Linked DNA regions of Homo sapiens: region 2 is linked to region 1. A link means that fine-mapping ties the variant in region 1 to the expression of a gene that starts in the linked region. Tissue or cell type: whole blood. Region 1 holds a variant in brackets; the other region holds the start of a gene. All regions are shown on one strand. Distances are from middle to middle.

What was found. PIP is the estimated chance that this variant, and not a neighbour inherited with it, causes the effect.
Region 2: it holds the start of CD302, and the variant in region 1 is fine-mapped to the expression of CD302 in whole blood (TOPMed, PIP 0.99).

Annotation. Positions count from the first base shown.
Region 1 is chr2:159,606,731-159,614,838 of GRCh38, reverse strand. The region is part of intron 1 of BAZ2B (bromodomain adjacent to zinc finger domain 2B); the gene reads left to right. Among named protein-coding and RNA genes, the nearest start is that of BAZ2B-AS1, 4.5 kb to the left of the region's middle. RefSeq lists an enhancer at 1-340. The variant AATG/G (reference allele first, on the strand shown) is at 4,185.
Region 2 is chr2:159,794,376-159,802,483 of GRCh38, reverse strand. It overlaps CD302 (CD302 molecule), which reads left to right and starts at 4,276. Exons shown (of 6, transcript NM_014880.5): 1 at 4,276-4,352. The coding sequence starts at 4,286. All of the region lies in intron 33 of LY75-CD302 (LY75-CD302 readthrough), which reads left to right. LOC124906083 (a long non-coding RNA gene) reads right to left here and starts at 7,294. Exons shown (of 2, transcript XR_007087273.1): 1 at 4,532-7,294; 2 at 2,232-3,665.

The DNA of each region.
Region 1 (8,108 bases):
TTTTTGCTTAATTTTTCTCCTGTTTTATAGGATTGTGTAACTTACAGGTTACTGATAAGTTGTGTGGCTTATTTTTGTGTTTTGCTCTCAAAATCAGTATACGAAGTCTGCGTATTGTATGTTTTGGTAACAGGTGGAAGATTATATGCAAAAAATGGTAAAAAACTTGTGCGTCATTTGTTATTTATCTGGTTTTTGTGTACTTTTTTTTTTAATTTAAAGGTTTCAACTGTTATCTGTAGTCAGTATATTCCCTTTCTTATTTGCTCCACTCTCCCTTATGGATTTTTTGAAAATTAGCTTGGTTAATATTTATGTATGGTTATTTTAGATTATCTGGCTCCCCGTTTCTAATAAAATGTTCTGGGGTTTTCTTTTTCTATTATTTATTTACATTTTGAAAAGAAATGACTATGGAAAATACCTTAAGATAATGGATACTTTAAAATTTAGTAGCAGATATTAAGTCAAACAATTATTGAGTATTTAAGAGGCAGAATTGATTTTAAAAGTTATTTTATAATCGCTAGCTATAAACTCTTTGTCAGCCATTATGAACAGATAAACAAAAACTAGCACTGTTTTAATTTGCTTGTCTAACATAGTTTTTCGCCTCACAAAAGTTGGTTTGGTCACATGACCAAGCTTAATGATACACTGACTAGTATATAAATAAGAGGCACTGTATATTGAATGGGAAAGTGGAATTCTGTCTCCTGTAGTCATTTTCAGTCAGCATATTTACATCTCTTCTAACAAGGACATGAAACTGTCTGTATTTAATTTGCATTCTCTTTGTCTTCTGGGTTGAGGGAAAAACACTGACTACAATTAACTTAAAAAAAGCTAATAGAAACAATTCTGAATACATTGAAAAGGTTTGTGTAACACACAGAAATTTATGTTCTATATGGTAAGTTTTTATTTCTGTAGCAGTCTTCTTTGGTGTTATCTATTTATCCAGGAATTTGCTTCATGTAATATGCTATATAGAAAGCTTGACTGAGTTGAGTGTCTGCCATTTATGTGAATTGTAGGTAGGTGAAAAATGTTTAAATAGTTAAAAGCACATAGAACAGATGGTTCTAAATTATACATGCAACAAAGGACTAGAAGATTTGGCAGATTATAAATGGCAAGCAACAGAGGATAAGCAGTTTAAGAAAATGGTAGTTAAGTACATTTGATGTCTCACACCTATTGTAAACACTGTACATATTATTGTCACTCTGCTGCATAATCAGTAATTTGGACAACATTAAGACACTCGTATGGTTCAGATAGAAAAAAGTAATTTTTACAAGTATTTGAAACAAGTGGTTGAATTTAAAATTATTTTAAGCCTACGATGATGAAGAGTCTTTTTTTTTTTTTTTTTTAGAAAATCAGATTGTATGCTTTAAAAATACAAAGTTATTTATGAGAACTTAATATTGTGTTCTTATAATGGTTGGAGAGAAACAGGAATGGGTACATATTTTAAAATCCAGATAATAGTAGCTTCACTGTTCTCACATGTTAAACTAGTGCCGAATTGTAGTACCATTTACTCTTACAAACACTAATGAAAAAATACTTCTAAACTCTTCAGTCTTGGAAATGCATTTATTGGAATACTGCTGGCATCATTTATGAAATACTTATTAAATGAAGGAAGGATATATTTTAGTTTTAATTTTTGAGTTTTATACATAACATTATGATACTGATTTTACTTGAATATTGTTTATTTACAATTTTTAGAATAGATGGATTCTTATGCAGGTTTTTTCTTTCTAGAACAGTCTCTGAGTAATTATATTTAGCATTTTCAAAAAATTGGGAATAGCTTAAAGTATTCAACTTGGTAGAAATTTGTTTTTATTTTTTATAAGCCATTCATTTAAAATGCACATAAGACTGTAATGGAAACCTTAGAATTTTAATTCTGTTGCCCTTTCTCCCATTTCTTTGTTTGCATGTTTATTATAGAACTGCAGTGTAAAGGAGCAGATGTTTTGCCAAACATCCTGATGTGTTGCTTTTTCTTATGGGAGTGCATAACTGTTCCTTCTGATGCATCAACTTGACAGCTGGTTGATTTCATGGAGCTGCTAAGAAGCCATTAGTGGTGTCATTGAATTGAAACAGAACAGTCATTCCCAGCTTGAACTGCAATTGTTAATGTCTTTGTTGCTACTTTTGTGTTACTATACAAGATGTAGGATATCACAGTTGCATGAAAGTTCAGGATTTCTGTCTTATCTCCTTGAATTAGTGAAAGTATATTTTGGAACTTGATTACTTTTAGGTTTAAAGGTTTCTCAGAGAAGGGATCTTAAGTTGTAGTTTCTGAGTAGAACTACCAAAAGAAGAGATATGATTTAGCACAAATTAATATGGTGATTTTGACCCTTAAGAGGAATTACGTCATCAAGTTTTAGTGATTATTAATATATTTGATTTCCTGGGGGATTAATTAAGTTACCTAGTTAGGTATTTTAAGAGTTTTTTTGGTTACATAAAATTAAGTATTTTTTACCATGAAGTTTTAAAAATACTGTTGCCTTTTTAATAAATGTTAATCCATTTGGCTGTTTCTTTAAACTTTTGTTCTAGGAAGTAATCACAAAAGAAAAGAAATAATTATTGGGGAAAGAGGCAGTTTTGTATTTAATTTTTCTTTATAATGAGGCTAAAATGTTATTTAAAAATTCATACAAACTATGATCTAAAATAACTTACTAGTAGACATTTAATGATTTTTAAAAAATGAAATTATATTTTTATTGTTATAACTTTTATTGATAGTTTCAGCTATCATACTAAAATGTGTGATACTAAATATGTGATACTAAAATGGTGTCATACTAAATATGTGATACTAAAATGGTGTCATCCCATTGGTGCCTACATATATTCTACTTTTTCTAATTATTTGCATGGTGTTTTTTGGTGGTAGAGGAAATGGGAGGGAGAAAAGAGGAAGAATGAAAAGTGATAATCCCAACACAGAAACATCCATTAAAAAATTCATGTAAATAAGATTTAAGGATATAATATAGTTTATTTATTACTATGTTAAGAGAATTTTTCTAGTCCCAATATTTATTGACTTTTAATTTGTAGGTCTTTAGGTGTATTAGGCATTTAAATAATTCTTCAAAGAGCATAAAATTTGTAACACTTAAAATAATTTGCCATTACAAAAATAAATACTTAAAATATGAAATTGATTAGAATATATAATTTGCTCAAAACTTCCTCTACAATATAAATTTTTAACACTTATGCCATTGATTCCAGAATTATGATTTCCTGAAATCAAAGTTTATAGGGACCCTTTCCTTTTAAATAGGTTGTACATTACTGACTAAAGCTAAGATTTATATTCAGACATTATGCTTTCTCAACCCTTTTTACATAGTAGCCATACAACTCCTTAAAAAGAAAATCATTCTGTTACCTTTGACTATGACTCAATATTTAAGAAATGTATTTACTCATAACATATTTTTGTTGAGGTAGATATTCATATAAATCAAATTAAGGAACATTGAATTGTGTATGAAATGTGAACTTTTTTTTAAAGGACTCCTGATGCTTAGTTTATCTTTAGAGATAATATAGTCTTAATTGTACTACACATAAACATCCTGTAGTTTAAGTAGGAATTTTCAGGCATCAGATTTCTAGAAGGAAGGTAATTCTCAATAGAAAGGTCATTTTAAAAGTTCAAACTTTGATTTACAGTTTTTTCTGTTGACCGTATTAAGTATGAAATTATGGGTAATAAATATATTTAATTCATTTTCAACTGCATATTGAGTTATAAAATATTGGCCACATGTTTATTGAAAACAGGAAAAGTAAATGAATATATATGACTTTTAAATGTATTTTGAGTGCTATTTGATTTGTGGCAGTCATAATAGAGTTTGAAATATAAAATATTTAAAAGTATGGATATTTACAGTTAAACATTGAGTTTTTAACCTTAATAGGGTTTTATAAGAATATGAGGTGAAAATATAGTTTTTATTCCACATACTTAAATTTTTACTATATAAGGTAAGAGTATTTCAATTTGTTTTAAAAGATAACGCTTTAAAAATAGTTTTTATAATTTATAAAATTCAACTTGTACTTTGGCTTTTGAATGCCTTTCATTCAAATAAAAACTATTGCATATTGGGGATAATAAT[AATG/G]ATGGCAACATAGATAAGAACCTTTACTAATTTTGTGTTGTGCACATGTGTGCATGGTATATAAGAAAAAGGAGCATTTGGTTTGAAGATAATTCTTGGATTAGTACTTCAGCTATGTGTAGACATAATTGGGTGTTTTTTCCTGTTTTCTCCTCTTAACACTTTTCCACAAACATGCACTCATTAATCAAAGACGGTGCACTCCTGCTGAGGGCAGAGAGGTTCATCAAATTGGCAGTCAGTTTGGTGTAAAGAACGGTGTACTGAAGCTCTTAACTCGCTAGGACATAAATAAATCTAAGGTCTTTGTATGCAAACCCTAGAGGTTAATACTGTATAATTCAGTGTCCTGTCTTTGTTTTTATGATTGATGTTTTTAAATGTTTCAAGCTTGGTGAAAGTCTTCTAGTAGGTCAGGTCTGACAATCTGATTGGCTGTAGTAAGAAAGCATTAGGTTGTCAGAAGGACTTTGAGTATGCTGCAGAGATTTTGATTTTTTTTCCTATGAGATCATTGTCATATTGCCTGAGCTGTTATAGGAATGTACCAATGATTGACATTGCCTGCTGTGATAATGGACCTAGTGCATGAAATGCCAATAGTTCGGTCCTATTTGTTCAGAAGCTTACTGCTATTTGTATCCTTAACACAGCTAACATGTAGAACAAGCAAAACTACTGGGATTTCTCTGTAGAAATAGTGCTGGGATTTGGCTTTAACATGAATTGGTTGCATATTCATAATTTAAGAACAGCTGGTTACAGCAAGCACATAGTCATTTGCAAGCTATTATAAACCATTCCACTCACATGGAGCCTGTGCTTGGTGATTTTTTTTTTTTTTTATTGATCTACCTGCATTTAAAATCTGGTCACTGCTGCTACAGAAGCTCTTTATTTTAGCTGTGTTTGCAACACAGAACAGGTTCAATTTTAAATATTTAATTTAAACTTAATGCTGAATAAAATGAAGAAGCTTTGAAGGAAACAAGTGTAAAAGGTCATGTCCTACCTGTCACGGCCAGAATCAACCAAACAAACCTAGATTATACAACTATTGTAATTTTTGGAATATGTGTTTTATGATTTTGTCCATAGATCAATAACAGAATTATCCTGGATTTGGAAATATTGCTAATAATATTTTACTAGTTATACATAGTTTTGGGAAACAACATTAACAGTAGATTGTGATTAATTAGTCTAAAACAATGTCATCTAATATGTAGAAAAGTAGTATAATACTTTTAGCTTATGAGTGGTGGTGTAAAGCAAGATAGAAGGGAAAATTGGCATGACTTTATAACTGGATTAGAATAATGCTAATCCTAAAACTATAGAGTTACTCTAGTTTTTTAGAAGAAATCTAATAAGGAGTCTCTTTTGCTTTTTGAGTCACTTCTGGAGTATTAAGCACAGGTATGCTCTTACAGTATTTAGGTGGTATTGGTAAGTTAGGCCAGCTATAATAGTTTCCTGCATGTTGTCAGTAATAACTGTAAGGAAAGAGGAGAACACCTTTGTGTCTCAAGCTTTTAGTGAGAAGGGTGGGAGGAGAAAATGTTAAATGCTATTTCAGCTCTCCTTTTAGGAATCACAGGGAGCTGTGCTTTGATTTGTGTATATTAAAATAAGTGAATACCTGAGTGATTTACAATGATGCGTTTCCACACATGGTGTTAGGCTCACATGTGCATGTATGTGTTTGTCCCCACACTAGATGATGAAGTAGCTCTCAGCACTTCAAGGTTGAGTACCAGTCCTAAGAGTGCATTTTACTCTTTCTTGGCTTCAGAAATGGCTGGATAGGTTTGTAATATAACAGAATATATGGCCAAATTTAATCCAGCTGATAGTAGGCTGTACTTTTTTTTAAACAACAAATCCAAAGGTTATTAAAGGATGATGCATTGTGTTTTAGTTTTGAGTTGCATAGGATCATAACTATAATTAGTTAACTTTCCATTATTTGAGATTATATCAGGCATTTTGTAAATTATTTTATGTCTTCTTCACTCCCTTTTGACTATTGTCCTTTCATTTATTTCTCTGCTCTTTAGCATCTCATCACAGAATAAAGGAAGGAAAATTCAAACAAATCTGGTTTTCCCTGCCTTCCCCACTTCTTGATGAAGAGGGGTTCTTAGTTTTTGACTAAAATGCAGGTTTGGGATTTTATTTGTCTGCCTTTTCTGGTTCTCATTACATAATTATATTTAGAAAAGAAGAAGGGTGAGTTAATGGACTGGATTTTTATTTTTACTTTTTATTTTTTTGGAGACAGGGTCTCACTCTGTTGTCCAGGCTGGAGTGCAGTGGCACGATCCCAGTTTACTGCAGCTTCAACCTCCTGAGCTCAAGGGATCCCCACCGCCTCAGTCCGCCAAGTAGCTGGGACTACAGGCTTACGCTGCCATGCCTGGCTAATTTTTGTATTTTTGTAGAGACGGGGTTTTAGCATGTTTCCCAGGTTACTCTTGAACTCCTGGACTCAAACAATCTGCGCACCTTGGCCTCTCAAAGTGCTGGGATTACAGGCATGAGCCACCACGCCTGGCCTGACTGAATTTTTCTATACTGTATTAGTAACCCAGCAAAACAGAAAATTTAGACGTTGTTTGAAAAAGTAAAGTGACTCAGTGACATCCACCACAGAATTGCACATATTTGATACATTTGTATTATTCTAGTATTAATAATAGGAAAAGGAGGAGGCATCTACCTTCATTCTTTAAGCTTTTATTGAATGCTATCTCCAAGCATGCTCTGGGAGAGCTATGGATAACAATTTATGGAAGTTCATAGTAGGAGAGAGATGGCTTCTCATTGGAATAATTAGAAAAGGCCCTTCGGTTTAGGTAGCATTGAACTAGATCAAGAACAATTAAATTTTGAATATTCACAGATCAGGAAGAAAAGATCCAAGAAAAGAAGGACTGCATAAGCCTATTATAGAACAAATATAGAGCTAGAGCTCTATATTAGAGCCAATCCATTTGACATCTGGGATGGTTCTGCCTTTTCAAGGTCACCCCAACCCATACCTCTTCCACTAGAAGGAAAAGAAAATGTCATGGGATCCTTCCTTTCAAAATTGACTGCTTGGCTTTTTCTGGAGAAGATGGGTTAATCAGTTTCAATCCTCCATTTCAGTGATAGGCTTATTTGTGAAGGCCGGGTTAAAACTGACAAAACTACCCTTTCTGGTTAGAGGTATTCAAATCTTCTGTTTTGAGATTAACCAGAACCCCTCCCTTTTCCTTGGTTCTTTTCCTATGCTTTTGTGAACAGTTTTTCTGGAAATCTAATGCATGATCCCCCCTGCTAAGAACATTGAGTAGAGAGCAGAGGGTGATATATGTGTATCCCTTTTCTCCATGATGATGGCTCTGGCTCAAAAAACACTTTTACTTCTTTTAGTTCCTTCGGATGAATGCAGAAGACAAGCAGACTGCTGGACTGCCAGTAACGGGCATATCCATAAGGACAAAAAGGAGGGCCAGGCGTGGTGGCTCATGCCTGTAATCCCAGCACTTTGGGAGGCCGAGACAGGCAGATCACTTGAGGCCAGGAGTTTGAGACCAGCCTGGTCAACATGGTGAAACCCTGTCTCTACTAAAAATATAAAAATTATTTTTTTTGAGGCGGAGGTTGCAGTGAGCTGAGATAGTACCACTGCACTCCAGCTTGGGTGACAGAGTGAGACTCCGTCTCAAAAAAAAAAAAAAATAGAAATCCCACTAAAAAAGAGTATGAAAAAGGAAAGATTTAAAAAATTTTCAAAACACAAATGTATGAAAGATCTTTTACATAATGTCTTGGCCAAGGACAATAAATTTTAGTAGTTAGTCTTTTCCTAACTTCATTATTACTACATCATAATAATAATGAAATTTATTATTATTGCATATTAAATGTTTT
Region 2 (8,108 bases), 190 kb before region 1:
CTGGGTGACAGAGCAAGACTCTGTCTCAAAAAAAAAAAAAAAAAAAAAAAAAAAATTGAAAGGGAAATTAGGAGATGAGGAACATGAGATTTCGAGAAGTATGATGGAGACAGAAAGGAAAGGGGCTGGGCCATAGCCAGAGGGGAAAGAAGGGTTGAAAAAGGGTTTTTTTCTAAAGGGGAGAGAAAGAGGTTCACAAGTTTAGAAGCTGAGATGAAAAAAACAAAAACAAAAACAAAAATAATGGACAGAGAGAAGTTGATGATGCAGTGGGGAGAGGGAATCATTAATGGAAGATCTTGGAGAAGATAAAATGAGAGGGGCAGTCCTAAGCAGAAAGAGGAACTGGTTTGGGTGGGCTGGAGAAGCATGCCTTCCTCTCTGAGACCACAAGAGAAGAACTGCAGATAAGCATTTGAAGATGTTTGTCTATATGTAATGGCACCTGTTTTCTTGTGTACTAGAAGGCAAGGTCTGCTGAGAAAGATGGGTAGCAGATGGGGTCTTTTAAAAAGTTTTTTAATTTTTTAGAGACAGGGTCTGTCTCAGTTGCCCAGGCTGGAATGCAGTGGTGCAACTCTAGCTCACTGCAGTCTCGACCTCCAACATTAACTTTTTTTTTTCCCTAGAGACAGGTGATTTCAATGTTACCTAGGCTGCTCTCAAACTCCTGGGCTCAAGTGATCCTCCCACTTCAGCCTCCCAAGTGTTGGGATTACAGGTGTGAGCCACCATACCCAGCCTGGGATCTTAGCTTGAAAAGAGTAATAAATTTGAAAGACTCAATGAGAGAAATAGGAGAGGACAGTGACTAAGGTAAAATCAAATACAAGGATTGCAGAAGAGGCATAGAAGGCCCAGATGAAATTAAAAGCCATATTGTTTATAGTGACAGCCATCGGGAGAACTGATTGATTTCCTCCACCTGTCCTCAGTTAACTTCAGTAAAGTTGAGGAAAAAGAGAGCACGGGCCAGGCGAGGTGGCTCATGCCTGTAATCCCAGCACTTTGGGAGGCCAAGGCGGGCAGATCACTTGAGGTCAGGAGTTCAAGACCAGCCTGGCCAACATGGTGAAACCCCACCTCTACTAAAAATAGAAAAAACTTAGCCAGGTGTGGTGATACACGCCTGTAATCCTAGCTACTCGGGAGGCTGAGGCAGGAGAATTGCTTGAACCTATAAAGTGGAGGTTGAGGTGAGCTGAGATAGCGCGACTGCACTCCAGCCTGGGGGACAGAGTGAGACTCCGTCTAAAAAAAAAAAAAAGCATGAAGAAGAAAGCGGAGACCACAGATTCCGAGTTGGCCAGGTGAGCACACCAGGGGAACAAGGGGACAGAGGATGTGGTATTTCGGCTGGGTGGAGAAGGGAGAAATAAAAGGCTGAGAAAAATGCAGGCAAGGGACTGAAGTCTGGCATGAGCCAAAAGAGGATGTAAGTTGGAGACAGAGTGAAGGAAAATTAAGGGTATGAGGTGTAACTGGAGAGTAAATGGGAGAGCGAAATATAACAGTACCCACATACAGGCAATAAGTAGTCTATTTCATCAGATTAGCATCAAAAATGAGGCAGTGTGCACCAGAGTTAACAATAAAATAATATAATTTTCTTTAGTACAAATGACTTAAAATGACAGTGTTAAAATGGGTTTTGCCTTAATTAGATTGATTCATTAGGATGTCAATTCTATTGTAAATATAAAAATATTTGAAAAGTAGCTTAACACAAAACCACATTGATAAAATATACTTTGGTGCCTGAGGTGGGGGTGGAAGAGATAACTTTCACAATTACATGATTGCTTAGAACTGTTCATTTTACTTCTGTAGTTAGGAGGGCAAAAGGGTCCAGAATCAAGATGTGTCAATATTCCAATATAGAGTATCTTTGGAAGGATTTGCTCTGGTCTGGAGTTTGGTATATAATAAACTCAGTATTGGCAGCCTGAGAAGAAAAATGGAAGTAAATAAGTTAAGCAAGACCTTAATACTTTGGCAAAGGGGCAGAACCTGGAATAGGTGGGAGAGTCCAGCAGAGGAGCTGGGCTCTGGTTCATTTGTTGGCATTCTCTGTGAGCCCACGGGGGAATCACATCCCTTCTTTGGGTCACTCAATTTCCTTACTAGTACCACTTCTAACACTCTATGACTCTCCTTATAGACCCCTTGGGTCAAATTTCCTTGGTGTAACCACTCTGGATTATCAGAAGTGTGGAAAGGGTTAGAAAGAGTTGGAAAGGGTCAGATTTTATTTTTTTAAAAATAGACTAATTTTTGAGCAGTTTTAGATGTATACAAAAAATGTAGCAGAAGGTACAGAGCTCCCATGTACCTCCTTACACATACCCCAGTTTCCCCAATTATTAACATCTTGCATTAGCAGGTACATTTGTTACAGTGGATGAGCCAATATTGACACATTATTAACTAAAGTCCATTGTCCACACTAGGGTTCATCTTCGTTTTGTGCATTCTATGGGTTTTGACACATGTATAGTGATACACATCTACCATTACAGTATCCTACAGAATAATTTCATGGCTCTAAAAATCCTCTGTGTTCCATCTATTCATCCCCTCCTTCTTCCCACCCCAACCCCTGGCAACCATTTATCTTTTTACTGTCTCCATAGTTTTGCCTTGTCTAAAATGTCATATAGTTGGAATCATATAGTATGCAGTCTTTTCAGATTGGCTTCTTTCTCTTAGCAATACATATTTAAAGTTCTTCCATGTCTTTTTGTGGCTTGATAGCTCATTTAATTTTGGTACTGAGTAACATTTCATTGTTTGGATGTGCCATTGTTTATCCATTCACTTATTGAAGGACATCTTGTTTGCCTCTAGGTTCTGGCAATTATGAATAAAGCTGCTATCAACATTCATGTGCAGGTTTTTGTGTGTATGTAAGTTTTTAACTCATTTGGATAAATACCAAGGAGTTGTGATTGCTAGATGGTATGGTAAGAGTACGTTTAGTTTTGGAAGAAGCTTCCAAATTGTCTTCCAAAGTGGCTGTACCATTTTGCATTTGCACCAGCATTGAATGAGAGTTCTTTTTGCTCCACATCTTTGCCAGCATGTGGTCTTGTCAGTGTTTTTGGATTCTGGTATCTAATAGGTATGTAGTGGTATTTCATTTTTGTTTTCATATACAATTCAGCAATGACATATGATGTTGAGCATCTTTTCATCTATTTGCCATTATATAACTTCTTTGATGACGTGTGTATTCAGATCATCTGACCATTTTTTTTAACTGGGTCATTTGTTTTCACGTTGTTGAGTTTAGACTTGATTTTATAGAACTCTTTTGCCAATGACATGAGGCTTAAACAAGCACCCTTGCTTGACCCTGGCTAGTGTTGTCCAGAGGCCCTCATGGGTGAAGTATAATTGCACAGTTTATGCATACATTGTAGCAAACATAGCTTAAAGACTCTTCATCCAGGAGCTGGTAACAGAGAAAAGTTGTCTAAGAGACATAGTCCACTGAAAGGGGTCTTTGAAAAGGAGGATTCTGGCCAGTAGATCCAAAGAAGAAGGCTGGCAAACGCCACCTTAACCAACTGATCCAAGTTAACATCAGTGATGAGACATCGACATCTTGTCCTTCTCGAGCACGTACATCACTTCTGGGGAACTCTTTCCCAAAAAAGCGCAACCTGAATCCAATTAGAAGGAAATGTCAGACAAAATGAAACTGAGGGACATTCTACAAAACGACTGGCCAGTACTTTTTAAATGTGGTTTGATCGTGAAAGAAAAAGAATGACAGAGAACCGTCCTAGATTAAAGGGAGACTAAGGAGACACGACATGCAATGTATGATCCTGGATTGAATCTTGGAACAGAAAAGGACCCTTAGAGGGGCAATTAATGAAATGTGGTAAGTGCTGTAGATTAGCTAATCGCATTATCCCAGTGCGAGTGCCCTGTGTTTGATCACTGCACTGGCGTTATATACAATGTCAATATTTAGAGAAGCTGGCTGAAGGGTTACGGAAATCTCTTGTGCTGTTTTTGCAACATTTTCGAAAGTCCTAAATTATTTCAATTCAAATGAAAAGTTTAAAAAACAAAAATTAGAAGTTCCAGAAGGCCGCGCGCCAGCCGCTCCTGCGGGACGGGACACCCGGGTTCTCCTGGTGGGAGCCCCCAGTGCCGTTCACGTTCCGCCCGGGGGGGGGATTAAACTCGCACGCGAGAAGCACCGCCCCCGCTCCCGCCCCGCCCCGCTCCTCTCCGGCCGCGCAGCCGCTGCCGCCCACCCGCACCCGCCGTCATGCTCCGGGCCGCGCTGCCCGCGCTCCTGCTGCCGTTGCTGGGCCTCGCCGCTGCTGCCGTCGCGGGTAAGCCCTTACGTAGTCCCTCGCCGGGACCGTGCGCGACCGCCTTCGCCCCCTTCCCAACGCACGCTCTTCGTCCCCGCGCACCCGAGGGCGGCCCGCAGACGCAACACCCGGCCGGCCATCCCGCCCTTCCCTGCACGCCCGTCCCCCGTGGGTCCTGGCTCCGGGTCACCTCTCACCCGCCTGCCCTCGGGGAGGGGAGGTGGCCGAGAATAAGGGAGGGCTCTGTCTTCCTCGGAGTCCACATCCTCACCGCAGACCCCACTCCGCGGGGAGGGAACCCCCAAATTAGGCCAGTTGGCCGGAGAACTGAGGGACTTGGAGTCGCACGACGGGCGCCGTTTCAGGGCAATTTCGGGCTGAAATGAGAAGCGGGGACGTTGGTGGCGATTTCCCCTGCTGGTGCGCGGCCGGAGTGGGGTTGCTGGGATGGGGGTGGGGGCCGGAGGAAGTAGGCCCTCTTTTGCAAGCAGCGCTGTTTGTCTAGTTGGTTGGTGTTCAAGTTGTTTAAACAGGAAAACAGTTCAGCCAAATAACCCCTGGATGGAAGAGGAACGGGAATAGGCAAAGCTTGGATTTCACTGAAATCAAGGAGTTTTAAAGTTCTAGTCTGCTGTTGTGCAAGTGACATCTGAAAAATCACACACGTGATCATTCATTTACAAAACGACTCGTGAGGAAAATGCACAATTCTATTGACCGTGGTCTTTATTTTTAAAAAATTTCCATACAAGCATGTCAAAAATATGTGGATGGGGAGACTCTGGAGAACACAGACTTCCAAAAACACCACTGACTGAATAATTCCAGGAATTAAAGAGCAAAATAAACAAGAACTAAATGAGTACTTGTGTGGGCTTAAATAAAGTGCAAGAGATTTAAATAAAATGCAAGAGATTCCCCCCCCCCACCCCTTGCCCCAGATTTCACTGCGTTTTTATAATAACTGCCTGCTCGAAGTCTACTGACAGGAATATTTCAGTGGACCTCAGTGTTGGAGGCAGCAGCAGCTCAGAACTTGGATACAAACCCAAGGTTCCTTTCTTGAAAACTTCTGTGGACCTGCATTTATGACTGGTTGTGACATCTGCTGCCTATCAAAGGGGCAGAAACAAGATGTGCCCATGTTCACATTGTTCAGACTGGGAACATTAATTTTGTCTAAGACAAAGCTGGGCTGTCTCTGAACCCTCCTTCTGCACACCCTCATTTTGCGAGCCAGTAACATCTCAACTCTCATGTAAACCACCCTCTGCGAGGCTGTGCATTTGTACTTTAGGCTAGTCGAATTTTCTTGTCAGATTTTTCTTTCTTGTCAGACTTTTAAAGAAAATCAGTTTCTAGATTTTGGTATGTCTCTTCTTCAGTGAAGCTGTTTTGACCAGCAATAGAGGGCAAATTTCCCTTTGGAAATTTTTGTGCATTTCCTTTGATAAGTCCAGTGTGGATCAATAGGCTTTTCAAGAGCTTTAGAAAAGTGCATGATGAATAAATTAATGTTAATTAATCAGCTCCTCCCAGTCAGGAAGCTTTAAGGATTAATTTGGAAATGAGTGTGAGCTTTGACCTAGCTAGTTAACCAACTTATCTGCACTTCAGTAAAACAGAGATAATACTTACTCATGGGGCTATTGGGAGCATTAAGTGGGAACTCCACGTCTAGTCCCTATTACAGGCGTGGTTCATCTTGGTTTCCTTCCCTTTATTCTCTTCATACAAAATGAAGGGTAATTGTTGCAACCAGAAAACGTATGAATACCACCTTATGTATATTGGATGTTTATGGTTACTGAACACATTCATATGTATGCTAATGTTATAGGGCTGAAAAACTAAGTGTGTTTTTCATAATACTTTACAAATCTCCCATCCAAGCAAGATCAGGGGTCATATTTGGCTTAGAACTAAGTCAAGAAAGAGTTTGTTGCTGAATACCAAGATCTTAATAGAAAAGCTCTTATGATGTTGCATAATAAATATGGGTATTGCATATAAATGTGATGTTGAAACGGAAATCATTGTTATTGTCTGTCATTCTGGAGGTTATTAGTGAAGTGATCTTAACCTTGTTCTTAGCTATTATTTTGAAAATCACAGTGGACAAAACATTCTTTAAATTCCTGAGTGAAAATCCATGGCATCGCTTTAAAAAGTTTTTCCGTAAGGGTGCTTAAGCACATAATAGATGATCAGTATGTATTTATTTGGTCAGTGGTTTCCTATGCCTGGCATGAGCTGAGTGAACAAGCATGTTCCGAGTAAGTCCTCATTCTGTGATCATCATGTGGATCAGAATCTAGGGATTTTGAATTGCCATGTCCTACAAGCCTTAGATGAGGTGCCTCTGCCTTCTTCCCTGATGTCATCTCTTACCACCCTTCCTGCCATTCACTCTGTGTATCCACAGAGTAAACAGTATCTGGGTACTCCAACACCTCTGGTCCTTCTGTGCACACCACCTTCCCCCAGTCCTTGGCATGGCTGCCCCCACCTCCACCATTCAGATCTCTGTTCATATGTCACCTTCTCCGAAGCCTCCCTGAACACCCACATTCTCTGTCACATGTCCATGTTTTATCTTTTCCAAGCCTTTCTGAATGCATTGTGTTTATTCATCTGTCTTGCTTGTTGCTTCTCTTACCAGGGGAAAGAAGCTCCATAACAGAGATTTTACCATCTTGTGGATTTTTGTTTTGTTTTGATTTGTGTCTCTGCACTTTATTCTAAGTTATAATAAAAGGATGAAAAAATTTAGGTGAGTTATTTAAAAAGTAGGTAGGATAAGTGGATTGCAATTTTTTTCAAATTATATTACCTCTGCTATGCACTCATTTCATAATGAATTCAAAGCCTTAAATCATCTTAATCTATTGCTGCCACCTTTTCTTTCTTTCTTTTTTTTTTTTTCCGAGATGGAGTCTCACTCTGTCACCCAGGCTGGAGTGCGGTGGCGCAATCTCGGCTCACAGCAACCTCTACCTTCTGGGTTCAAGCAATTCTCCTGCCTCAGCCTCCCGAGTAGCTGGGATTACAGGCATGCGCCACCATGCCTGGCTAACTTTTGTATTTTTAGTAGAGATGGGGTTTCACCATGTTGGCCAGGCTGGTCTCAAACTCCTGGCCTCGTGATCTGCCCACCTCGGCCTCCCAAAGTGCTGGGATTACAGGTGTGAGCCACCGTGCCCGGCCTGATGCCACCTTTTCTGACTCTTGTGTATGGCACAGTTATGTTTCAGGGGAAATTATCTCAGATTAAATATTAGAGTATTTTAAAATAAATTTTGAGCTGGGCGTGGTGGCTCACGCCTGTAATCCCAGCACTTTGGGAGGCCGAGGCGGGTGGATCACGAGGTCAGGAGATCGAGACCATCCTGGCTAACACGGTGAAACCCTGTCTCTACTAAAAATACAAAAAATTAGCCGGGCGTGGTGGCAGGCACCTGTGGTCCCAGCTACTCAGGAGGCTGAGGCAGGAGAATGGCGTGAACCCAGGAGACAGAGCTTGCAGTGAGCTGAGATCGCGCCACTGCACTCCAGCCTGGGCGACAGAGCGAGACTCAGTCTCAAAATAAATAAATGAATAAATAAATAAATAAATAAATAAATAAATTAATTAATTTTGAAATGTTAATGTTTATTTTTCTTCCAATGAAAAAGTGAAATTTCAATTAGGTATTATTTCAGGACTTCTTTTACTGTTGAGAATCTTTTAACAATTTGCTTATGTGTTGAAAACTAGTTTTGCAGCAAGGTTAC